2 separate regions of the Homo sapiens genome follow, and region 2 is linked to region 1. The links come from fine-mapping of genetic effects on gene expression. A gene starts in region 1. The other region holds a variant in brackets. All regions are shown on one strand. Distances are between the middles of the regions.

The links.
Region 2: its variant is fine-mapped to the expression of VSIG10L in cerebellar hemisphere (GTEx, PIP above 0.99).

Annotation. Positions count from the first base shown.
Region 1 is chr19:51,338,883-51,344,249 of GRCh38, forward strand. VSIG10L (V-set and immunoglobulin domain containing 10 like) reads right to left here and starts at 3,257. Exons shown (of 10, transcript NM_001163922.3): 1 at 3,203-3,257; 2 at 2,271-3,125; 3 at 1,551-1,844; 4 at 1,133-1,417; 5 at 6-260. The coding sequence starts at 3,242. VSIG10L-AS1 (VSIG10L antisense RNA 1) reads left to right here and starts at 1,138. Exons shown (of 5, transcript NR_186316.1): 1 at 1,138-1,835; 2 at 2,184-2,292; 3 at 2,968-3,103; 4 at 4,806-4,929; 5 at 5,190-5,367. RefSeq lists silencers at 32-371, 1,022-1,291.
Region 2 is chr19:51,265,557-51,270,923 of GRCh38, forward strand. It overlaps SIGLECL1 (SIGLEC family like 1), which reads left to right. Exons shown (of 6, transcript NM_001385465.1): 3 at 1-93; 4 at 221-326; 5 at 1,817-1,973; 6 at 3,015-3,774. The coding sequence ends at 3,041. It overlaps LOC107985327 (a long non-coding RNA gene), which reads right to left. Exons shown (of 4, transcript XR_007067309.1): 2 at 4,607-4,688. Among named protein-coding and RNA genes, the nearest start is that of LINC01872, 3.0 kb to the right of the region's middle. The variant T/C (reference allele first, on the strand shown) is at 2,455.

The DNA of each region.
Region 1 (5,367 bases):
CTCACCCGGCGTGACTGTGCAGGTACGCGTGGCCACCAGGTGGCGAGCAAGGCAGGTGATGGGGACGCCGCTGAGCCGGGGGTGGGCGGGGACGGCCGCCAGCAGCACAGAGGACACTGGCCCGGCGCGGATGCCTTCGGGGAGACCCTGGAACTGCAGGGAGGCAGCAGGGGCCCCGCCGGGCCACGAGCAGCGGAAGCGGAGGCTGCGGTCCCCGGGACCCCCTTCAACTGAGCACTGTGGGGCCCCGGGGGGCAGGTCTGCGGAGAGAAGGGAGAGAATGAAGATGGAGTCCCTTTCTCATTTCTTCTCCAGCCCCGCCTCCCCGCGCGGTGACTCCACCCTTCTTCACTAGCCCCACCCCATAGGCGCTCACACTCCCCACTTTTCCTGCGATCCCGTTCCCTTTTCCCATTAACTTCCTCGCTAAGTGGGTAGCCCGCAGCCCTGCTGACTGCCCAACTTTCTTAAGAAAACTGCATCTTCACACAATGATATTTCTCTTCCCAAACGTAACTCAGCCCCTTCCTTTCCAGCTCCACCCACTTCTGCCAGGTTACTTCGCCCCCTCCTGGATTGCACTCCGAGAAGCCTCCCCTTTTCCCAGATATCTCCGCCCTTCCTTGTGGACCCCTTCCCCTTTCTAAGACAATTCTGCCCGCTTTCTAAATGACCTCGCCCCTTTCCCTGGTGACTCCGCCCCCCTTGCCAGGTAACTTCTCCCTTTGCTGATCCCACTTAAGCAAATTAGTTCTTTCCTTTTCTAACTCCCACTCTTTGCCATTTAACTCCGCTTGTCGACTTTGTCGAGTGTTCCATGCCCAGGAATGTCCGCCCTCTCAGTGCTGGGCCGGCCCGTCAGTCCTGGTCATCCCTGCCACTCTATTTGGCTCCTTCCCTTATCCTCTTTCTGGCCCCGCCTCTTATCCTAGGTGTCTCCGCCCCTCCGCGCTGGCCCGCCCCACCACGGGTATCCCAGCTCCTTCTTGGTGACCCGCCCTCCCGCTGGCCCTGCCCCACCCACCGGTATGCTGCTCCTCCTTGCTGGCCCCGCCCCTTTCCTCTAGCCCCGCCCTCGTTCTGGCCCCGCCCCTCTCCCAGGCATTCCCCTACTCCCGCTCCAGCCTCTCACCCGCCACTGTAAGGTTGAGCAGCGAGCGGCGGCGGCGGCCGGTACGCGGGTTCGCCGCCAGGCAGGCGTAGGTGCCTGCGTGGCCCGGTCCGACCGCGGGCAGCAGGAGGCGCGACCCCGCGGGCACCGCGGCCTCGGCCGGGTCCGCCAGGCTCCACGTGATGTCGGCGGGCGGCCGCGAGGCGGCGGCGCAGCGCAAGGTCACGTTACTGCCCGCGGTGACAAAGCGGGCAGGCGCGGCGTCGCGGTCCGAGGAGACCGTGATGGTCGGCGGGTCCGGGCCGTCTGGAGGGAGGAGGGGTCGGGACCGCGAGTGTCAGGGTCACCTGGGACGCCGCTAGGACTCCCGGAGACTGGGTCCCCAGCCCGCTTCTCCCCAAGGACCCCCTGTCCCCGACCCGAGGCATCCCCCACTCACAGAAGACGCTGACGTCGGCGGCAGCCTCCCTGTGGCCGAAGGGGCTGCGGACGCGGCAAGTGTACCGGGCGTGGTCGCTGCGCACAGGGCGCACGATGAGCAGCTGGTCGCCCTCTGAGCGCATCCGGGGCGTCTCGGCTCCCTCCGATTCCGCCGCCTCCAGGGCGCGTCCGTCCCGGCTCCAGCTCAGCTCCCCGCGACCTGGCCCCCACCCCAGGCAGCGCAGCCGGAGCTCGGCCGCCCCCTCCTCTGTCTCTGGAGCCTTGGGCTGAACCGACAGCTGGGGTAGGGGCTCTGGGAGAGGGAGAATGGGCTCAGGACCCACCCAGTCCTGGAGCCCATCTTTGGTCCCCTTAGAGGGAACCCCAGCCGCTGCTCCCTCTAAGCCCCTGGAGTCTCAGCCCCCATCCCTCTCCTCTCATAAACCTATGAGTTTGAGCCCCCAGACACCTCCTCTCCGGGACCCAGGAGTTCGCCAGAAGAGGCTCCTAGCCTCCTCCTCCTCCCTCAGACCTGGGAGTTCAGGCTCCCAGGAGTCTCCATCCCAGGTCCACCTTTGCTCAGACACCCCTGCCTTGACCTCTAGCTCTTTTTCTCCCTTCCTCAACCCAGAAGTCCTCTTCTCCTATCCAGGGACCCCACAGCACCGTGACTTGCCCAAAGCCTGGCAGAGCAGAGCAGCCCCTGCCGCCTGCACGCCGGACGCCAGGGCCCACTTACCATACACACCCACCGTGAACTCGTGAGTCTGCTGGGAGACCCCTGCCCGGATGACCTCAGCCGTGTAGACCCCTGCATCGTCCAGCTGGGCAGAGGCGAGCTCCAGAACCCCCCGGGCCTGGTCAAATCGCAGGTGGTCTCGGTGAGCAGGGTCCAGGCTGATCAGAGGTGCCCCTGGCCCCAGGCCCCCAGCTGCCAGCACCTTTGAGCCCCGGCGCCAGACCACCAGAGAGGTGGGGGGCCCAGGGTTGGGGATTGGGACTAGGGGGAGCCGGATGGTGGTCCCCACCAGCACAGCGAGTGGGCCCCCCACCTGCTGGGGAAAGCTTGCAGCTGAGTGGGTCTCTGCAGAAAATTTGGATTCAGGGCTCTGGGCAGAGAGTTTAAGATCCATATCATCCGGGGAGAATTTTGAATCTGGGGCCTCAACAGACAGTTTGGTATGGGAGACTTGAGTAGAAATGTTTGAAGCTGGGGTCTTAACAGTGAAGGAAGGCTTGGGGTCTTTGGCAGGAACTTGAGGATCCGAAATATCAGGAAATACTTCAGAACCAGGGGTTTCAGAGAAGGGGGAAACCGGGCTCAAATCTTGGCCCTCAGCAGAAACATTTGACCAGAAGGACCCAGACATGTTGGAACTCAGGGCCTCAGGAAACCAGCTGGAATCAGAGATTCCAGCAGAGGCTTTTGAATCCAGGAACTGATCTGGAACTTTCCAGCTGGGAGGTTTGATGGAGGGAACTTCCACACCCAGCCCCTGGGAAGAGCTCTTTGAGTCTGAAGAGAAGGCAGAGGAGAAGTTGGTTTGCTGAAGTCCAGAAGAGGCTCTGAGGGTGAGGATCCCTACCAAGGAGGCTGCAGAGAAGAGAGGAAGGCATTGGGGGAGGCTGCTGAGGGAGACTGACAGGGAAGGGACTGAGCAGGGAACTTACCCAGGAGTAGGAAGAGTGGCAGAGCCTGTGGGTTGTCCATGGTGCTGGCCTCACTGAAAGGACACTGGAGAGAGACCCAGGACTGCACCCATCCCTCCCGGGTCAGACGAGTCCAACAGGACTGGTAGCTTAGCTTCCTGGGAGGGGAAGGGAGCCAGACCCAGAGGGAGGTGCCAAGATCCTCAACCCCAGTGTGGTGGCTGAGCTGCCCACCTCATCCCACTCTCTTCATTAGCTGGTCCCATCTGCAGAGAGGCCCAGCCTGATCCCTGCCCTCCCCACCCCCAGGGGGAAGCTGGAGAAAACATTCCCAGCTAAAAATGTGGGAGCAAATTTGTGAGACAAAGCCAGGAAGACTTCCTGGAGGAGGGTGAGGTGACCTTTCCGAGAGCCCCACCTCTGATGGCCACAGCTTCAGAGCAGGCTTCCTCCTCCCCAGCCTCCTGGCTCCTTCCACTCTGTCTTGCCTGCAGCCTCAGATACATCTGACCCTGCTCCTCCTCTGCTCCAAACCCTCCCACGGCTCTCTGTTGCCCTCAGAACCAAGTCTCCAGGTGCTATCTCCTGCCAGGGCCTCTATCCTGAGACCAGAGCTGCATTTCCGCATCCCCGAGGCCCTCACATGGCCTGTGTCCCGCTAAACTCAGACTCTTTCCTCTAACCCAAACTTCCTCACACCTCCAGGATGGCTTCACTGTCTTCGCAAATGCTGGAGAACATTCCCACCTCCTCCCTCCCTGTCACCACTGTCGATCTGAGTCCAACCCTCCTCCCCCTAGTTCTCACTGGCCAGGCTCTGTCTTCTCTTCCTGCCCCGTCTCCCTCCTCTGCCCAGTCTCCTCCATTCCCTGCCAGGGTCCTTCTATACCCAGAGCTGAACCTGCCTCCCCCTGCTCACAGCCCTCCCCTGGCTCCCCAGTGCCCTCTGGAGACATCCAAGGTTCAAAGCAAACTCATGCACAGCCCCCACTCAAGCACTTGAACATCCTGCCATTCTTATCCTGCCCGCCCATCTCACCTCCCAGTCCTCTACCTGGAATGCTCTCTCCCACTCTCCACCTCCCTCCAACCTGGCTAAACCACAACTTGTCCTTCAGGTCTCACCTTATTAAGAACCATAATTACCACTTAATTTGAGCCAGGAACTACGCTAAATGTTTCCTATGCACTATCAGGCTGAACACTTCTAAACACCCTATAAGCTGAGTGTCATTATACTCACTTTGCAGGCCAGGGGACTTAGGCTCAGAGAGGTCAAGGGACCTGCAGGAGGTTGCACAGCCAGAGGGAGAAGCTGGACTTGGGACCAGGATGGTCAGACCATTGACTCCTTCTGATAGCTTTTCCCACCATCCCATGTGGAGCTTAGGGCCTCTGCTCAGCTCCCAGTCCTCTAAGCTTACCCTGGCCCAGTTCTCACCAGTAATAATACTGGTAATATATATATATTTTGAGATGGAGTCTCGTTCTGTCACCCAGTGAGTGCCTCAGCTCACTGCAGGCTCCATCTCCCGGGTTCAAGTGATTCTCCCGTCTCAGCCTCTGCAGCAGCTGGGAGTATAGGTGTGCATCACCACACCAGGCTAATTTTTGTTATTTTTAGGAGAGATGGGGTTTTGCCATGTTGGCCAGGCTTATCATGAACTCCTGACCTCAAGTGATCTGCCCGCCTCAGCCTCCCAGTGTTGGGATTACAGGCGTGAGCCACCGTGCCCGGACTAATATTGGTAATAATATATATTTAGCATTTTTTGCATAGCAGGTGTGGTTATGGGGGTGCTACATAAATTAACCTTTCAAAACTCCATGGAGTAGATGATGTAGCTTAAAGAGGGCTGCAAATTTGAGCGTCCTCCTGTTAAGATGCGGGGTCTATGTCCCCTCTGCTTGGATCTGAGTAGCTGTGTGACTGCTGGACCAAGACGTGGAAGTGGCCCTGTGCCAGGATCTGCATCTAGGCCGGCATATGCCACTTTCTGTATCATAGGACACTCCCTCATGGAATCCAGCCGCCACACTGCGAGGATCAGCAGCCCCATGGAGGGGAATCATGGCCCCTGGTCAGCAGCCCCAGCCAGCTTGCTGGCTATGTGGGTGAGCCCTCTTGGAAGTCAATCCCCTGGCCCCATTTGAGGCACATGAACTGATCCTGAACTGGATCCAGG
Region 2 (5,367 bases), 73 kb before region 1:
GCCTAACTGAAGAGCCAGAAATGGGCATGAGACTTCTCTGTGAGGGGAAGAACCAAAACGGAACCCATGCTTTGAGCATCCTACTGATGTCAAGTGAGGGTGGAGGGGGCTCGGTGACTGGGTGAGGACAATAAGCGGGATGGGGACAGTCACTGGGGCTAGAGAATGGAGCAGAGTTTTGGCTCCGATGCCAAACTTCTCACATGCTCTCTGCTTCCAGGAAAGAGTTCTTTGGCTGCCCAGGCCTTCGTGAAAGGGCTGATCCAGGGTGCTATCTATGCGGGAATTGTAATTGCGCTGCTCTTCCTCTGCCTCCTCCCTCTCATGTGAGTACTAGGGTTAATATTCACCCGCAAGCCTACTACCGGGCAGGCCCTGGCTGCAGCCCTGGCACAGAGAGAGCAAAGACAGGACCCCTCCCCTCAAGGAGCTTAGGGTCTAAAGAGGGAAAGATGTACCAAACATGGTCACCACAATCCAGGGCCATGAGGACTATACAGAACCGTAAAACTGTGTCATAAAACAGACACTTTGAACACATTTTATAAAGGAGAAGACCAAGAAGGGACTTGGCAGCCCTGGAAAAGGCAGCAGCGAGTCCCCGGGGTGCTGTCTGTGGTGGGCCTGCAAGGGTTCAGTACTCGTTAGCTTGGTGGAAAGTATTAATAGTACAGGTTGAGTATCTAATCCAAAAATCCAAAATCCGAAATGCTCCAAAGTCCAAAAGTTCTCGAGGCACCGACATAATGCCACAAGTAGAAAATTCCACACCTGACCTCATGTGATAGTTCAATGCACACAAACTTTATTTCATGCACAAAATAATTTTAAATATTATATAAAATTACCTTCAGGCCATGTGTATAAGGTATATATGAAACATAAATGAATTTTGTTTTTATACTTGGCTCCTATCCCCAAGATATGTCATTATGTATAAACAAATATTCCAAAATCTAAAAAAAAAAAAAAAAATTGAAATCTGAAACACTTCTGGCCCCAGGCATTTCAGATAAGGGATATCTAACCTTTGTATGCAGACGCCCAGAGGCATGTTTGAGGCATTTCCAGTGTCTTTGTATAATGTCAGGTGCATTGAGAGTACCAGGTAATGGCTAAAAATGAGGTTGAAAGACATCCTTGGTGTTGGTTCACAGGGTGTTAAAACTTAGCTGCATGTATTAGCTAGAAGCATGGAGTGGGAAGGGGTGAGTTGCAGGAAGTCAGGCCAGAGAGACGGGCAGGGGAGCCTGTCCAGACAGCTTGGACTGAATCCTCATTTCGGAGCCATGGAAGAGTGCTAAGCTGTGAAGGAAAGCTTGAGCTTGGGGTGGGACACAGATTAGAGAGAGTGAGAGCCAGAAGGTCAGAGGCCAGGCAGGAAGCTGGTGCAGGGGACTAAGCAGGAAATAGAAGGCCTGACCTGGGGCAAGTGATGAGGGGCAGCCAGAGAGGTGGGACTTGGGCATGGCTGGCTATGGGGAGACAAAGATGAGGAGTGAGGTGTCAGGGCAAACTGAGGAGCTATTTTCAAAGTATAATCAACAGGACTTGAAGACCAGTAACAATCTCTCTGCCAGTTGCAAGGCCCTTTCTTAGCTGACCTCATCTGAGCCCCACAGCCTAATAAGCAGGGTATCCCCCTTATTCAGAGTGTGAAACTAATTCCCAGAGAGGATGTGTGGCTTGCCCTAGGTCATACAGCAAGCTGGTACTGTTGTTGAGGCTCTAAATCAGAAGTTCTGGTCAAGATAGAGCCCATTTGGGGATTCAGGGAGATGGAGAGCCAGAACCAATCCAAGGCTTATTTCCTTAGAGTGAAACATATCAGAAAGAAGCAGGCGAAGAAAGCTGCAGCGATCAGAGCAAAAAAGAGCTCTAAAGTCAGAGCAAGCCAAGAACTTGAGATGTCTCTGAAGCCTGAGGAACCAGGAAAACCCGTAGTCGCCACATTTTCTGAGAGCCGGATATTGGTATGTACCTATTGTGTCTGGAATCTAGTCTATCGGAATACTGATAATAAGACCCACAGGGAAAGGAGCACACAGTGTTTTGAAGGTGTTATCATCCTCAGTCTTGCAGGATACCTAATGCTAGAGTGTGCTTTCAGGTCATTTTATAAATAGGAAGCTAAGGCCCAGAGAGGAGAAGGATGAAAGTTAAGAGAAACAATTTAAAGAACAATTAAAATCAATTTACACGCACACACCATTACATTGAATCCCCACTGAAAAGGCAGTTGGGGAAAATCCTAATAGCAGTTGTAGCATCAGAGTGGAAACCAAGGATTTGGCCTCTGAGTGTATGGCCGGCAGCAGTCAGCTTGGTGTAGATGCCACAGGCCAAGTCAGCCTGAAGTGGTTAGAGATTAGGCCAAGCCCAGGTTACTCCTTCATTCACCCTGTACCCCACATCTTCAGCAGGGCTTGGAAGATACAGTGTCCGAGGTTGCTA[T/C]GCCTCACTGTTATTTACCGTTTATGATTCTCCAGAATCAGAATTATCCTGCTGCCCTCCTAACACCCTGCATGAACAGTTGGTGTCCTTTTGTAGATAAGCCATCTGTTAAATTCCACCAATATTTCCTGCAATATCTCCTAATCTTTGTGCTCGACAATGCTGGGGTCTCAGAAATGGGCCAAACCTAGGCCTTGTCCTCAGAGAGCAACTAGACTGGTCGAGAAGGCACCTTCACAGTAGGGGATGCTGAGCCAGGAGTTACGGTGGTGCAGAAGAGGGAGGGACCAAACCTACCTGAGGAAGTCAGGCAAGATTCCCTGAGGAGTCTAAGGAACAGTCAGTGTTATGGGTACTGAAGATGCACAGAGAGGACCAGATGGAGAAGACCGAGTTGCAGGCTTTAACCATGGGGTTGTGAGGAAGGGCTAAGCCAGTGCTCACTCCATGTTGCCTTAATTCTGTGCACAAGGGGGTGTCTTTTTAAGATTTGGATACCTCACCTCTAGACCTGTTCCAACATTCTTTTTTCTTTGTTCTATTTTGCACCTCGCTTTCAGGAAAAGCAAGATAAACGAGCCAGCTAAGCCTGTGGAACATGCCTCATACCTGGAGTCGCCATTATCCCTGGAATTACAAAGATCTGCAAAATTTATAGCGCTCACAGAAACCCTGGAGGCTGTAATAAACCTGGAGCCCCCTGGACTCTCCTCAGCTCACAAAACCCTCTCAATTCCTACACATCCCTTAACACTCATTCTCCATTGAATAGGTGGTTACTCTTAGACCTAGTCTTAGAACCTCTGAAGACACACTTTGTAATTTGTTGTTTGGCTAAATGAGAAGAAATCTGTGCCACCCTGGGAAGGTGTCAAAAGAAGGAAAAATACATGTGACAATATGAATCAAGTCCATCAGCAAGTTACTTTTGAGCGCCTACTGTGTGTCAGTGCCTGAGATACACCTACAAGAGCGCCAGGCTTTCAAGCCTTCATATCTGGATAGAATCCCAACTTCAGTGCTTGGTGGCTGTCTATCTTTGGACAAGATCTTTCATTCCCCATCCTTTGAACATCACATGACCCATATCTGGGTGGAGAATGGGTGAAAAGTACTGTTCAGAGATGCAGGTGAGAAAAAACATGACGATGGGCCCTGAATGCCAAGATTCATTGGAGCTTTGGAGCTTTATCTTGTAGGACCTTATCCTGACTCCCTTAGAATGTAAGTTCCAAGAGAACAGGGACTTTGTCTGCCTTGTTTTCTACTTTTATCACCAGCACCCAGAATGATGCCTAAAATACAATAAGATCTCAAGAATGTTTGTCAAATGATTTAATTAATTATAAGCTGTTTTAAGGTTTGAAGCAAGCAAGTAGAGTGACCAGATATAGACAGAAAAATCATTTCCGTACCCTGACCCCACATATGATATATTTAGAATGGGTAAGGCTGGAGGTAAAGATGCTAGTTAGGAGGTTATCGCAATAGTTCTTGGCCAGATTGAAAGGCAGGCATGCAAGGAATGGGAAAGGGATTCTGGCATTAGAATGAACCACAACTATGTATTGTTCCTCTCAGAATGGATGACAACCTCCTTTCTAGCCAGATGCTAGTAGATTTTTTTTTTTTTTGAGATGGAGTTTTGCTCTTGTTGCCCAAGCTGGAGTACAATGGTGCAATCTCGGCTCACTGCAACCTCTGCCTCCCGGGTTCAAGTGATTCTCCTGCCTCAGCCTCCCGAGTAGCTGGGATTACAGGCACACACCATCACACCCAGCTAATTTTTTATAGTTTTAGTAGAGACAGGGTTTCACCATGTTGGCCAGGCTGGTCTCAAACTCCTGACCTCAGGTGATCCACCTACCCCGGCCGCCCAAAGTACTGGGATTACAGGAGTGAGCCACCGTGCCTGGCCAGATGCTAGTAGTTTTCAGTAGGTGGAAAGAGGGTCATCTCTTCCCTGGGGCAATATTTGTGGGTAAATACAGTGATCCTGTAGCACCAGCTAGATGGTCATCTTATACTCAGGGTGGACGTTTACGTTAGCCCCCACATGTATAAGCACCTCTCACAGGCAGTTCACATTTCACAGAAATATCAGATGTGCCACCATGTGCCAGATAATGAGGGGAAGAAGTAAGACACTCACCCTGCCTCCGTGGAGTCATGGTCTACATAGACAGACGATGAAGAAATGCAGACGAATTTATAGCTTAAAATGTTGATAAGTGCTAGAAAGAAAACAGGACAGAATACTATGAGAAAGCACAGGAAAGGAAGCTAGGTTGGATTACAGAGTCAGAGAAGGCCTCTCAGAGAAAGTGACACTTGCCTTGAGACCTATAGGATTATTAGGAGCTGGCTAGACAGAGGGAGCAGTAGATCCTAAGCTCTGACATGAGAACAGTTTGGTGAGTTCAGGAGCCCAGAGCAGGCCGCTGTGACTGGAATTGACTGAGGGATGAGCTCCTGAAGGGCCAGAACTTGCAGGCCTTCCAGGGCTCTAGTGGGAAGTTTAGGTTTTGTCCTCACTTATGGAGGGTTATTTCCTCTTATGCTTTGTAATTCTGGAAAGTGCAGATTGTTTGAGAATCACATCCAGTGGAGCTGTGTGAGAATCCTGGGCAGCAGAGGTTTTGAGTTGAGGATAGAAGCCTCTATGTAACAGGTTTGGTGTTTGCTTCTACTAAAGATACATCCTCTGTTTGGGAGGGAGAGGCAGACAAGGCTGGGGAGAGGGAGAGTGCCAGTGTTGGGAAAGAAGAGAAAAAAATGTAGAAAAGGAATAGGAGAGAGGATAGGGATCGGGTTGGAGATAGGTCAGAGATGGGTTTGGGAATGGGAATAGAGAGGCTGGGCTTCATCGTGTGTCTTGTTTTCTCGGTGATAGGGGCCTCGCGTGCAGGACAG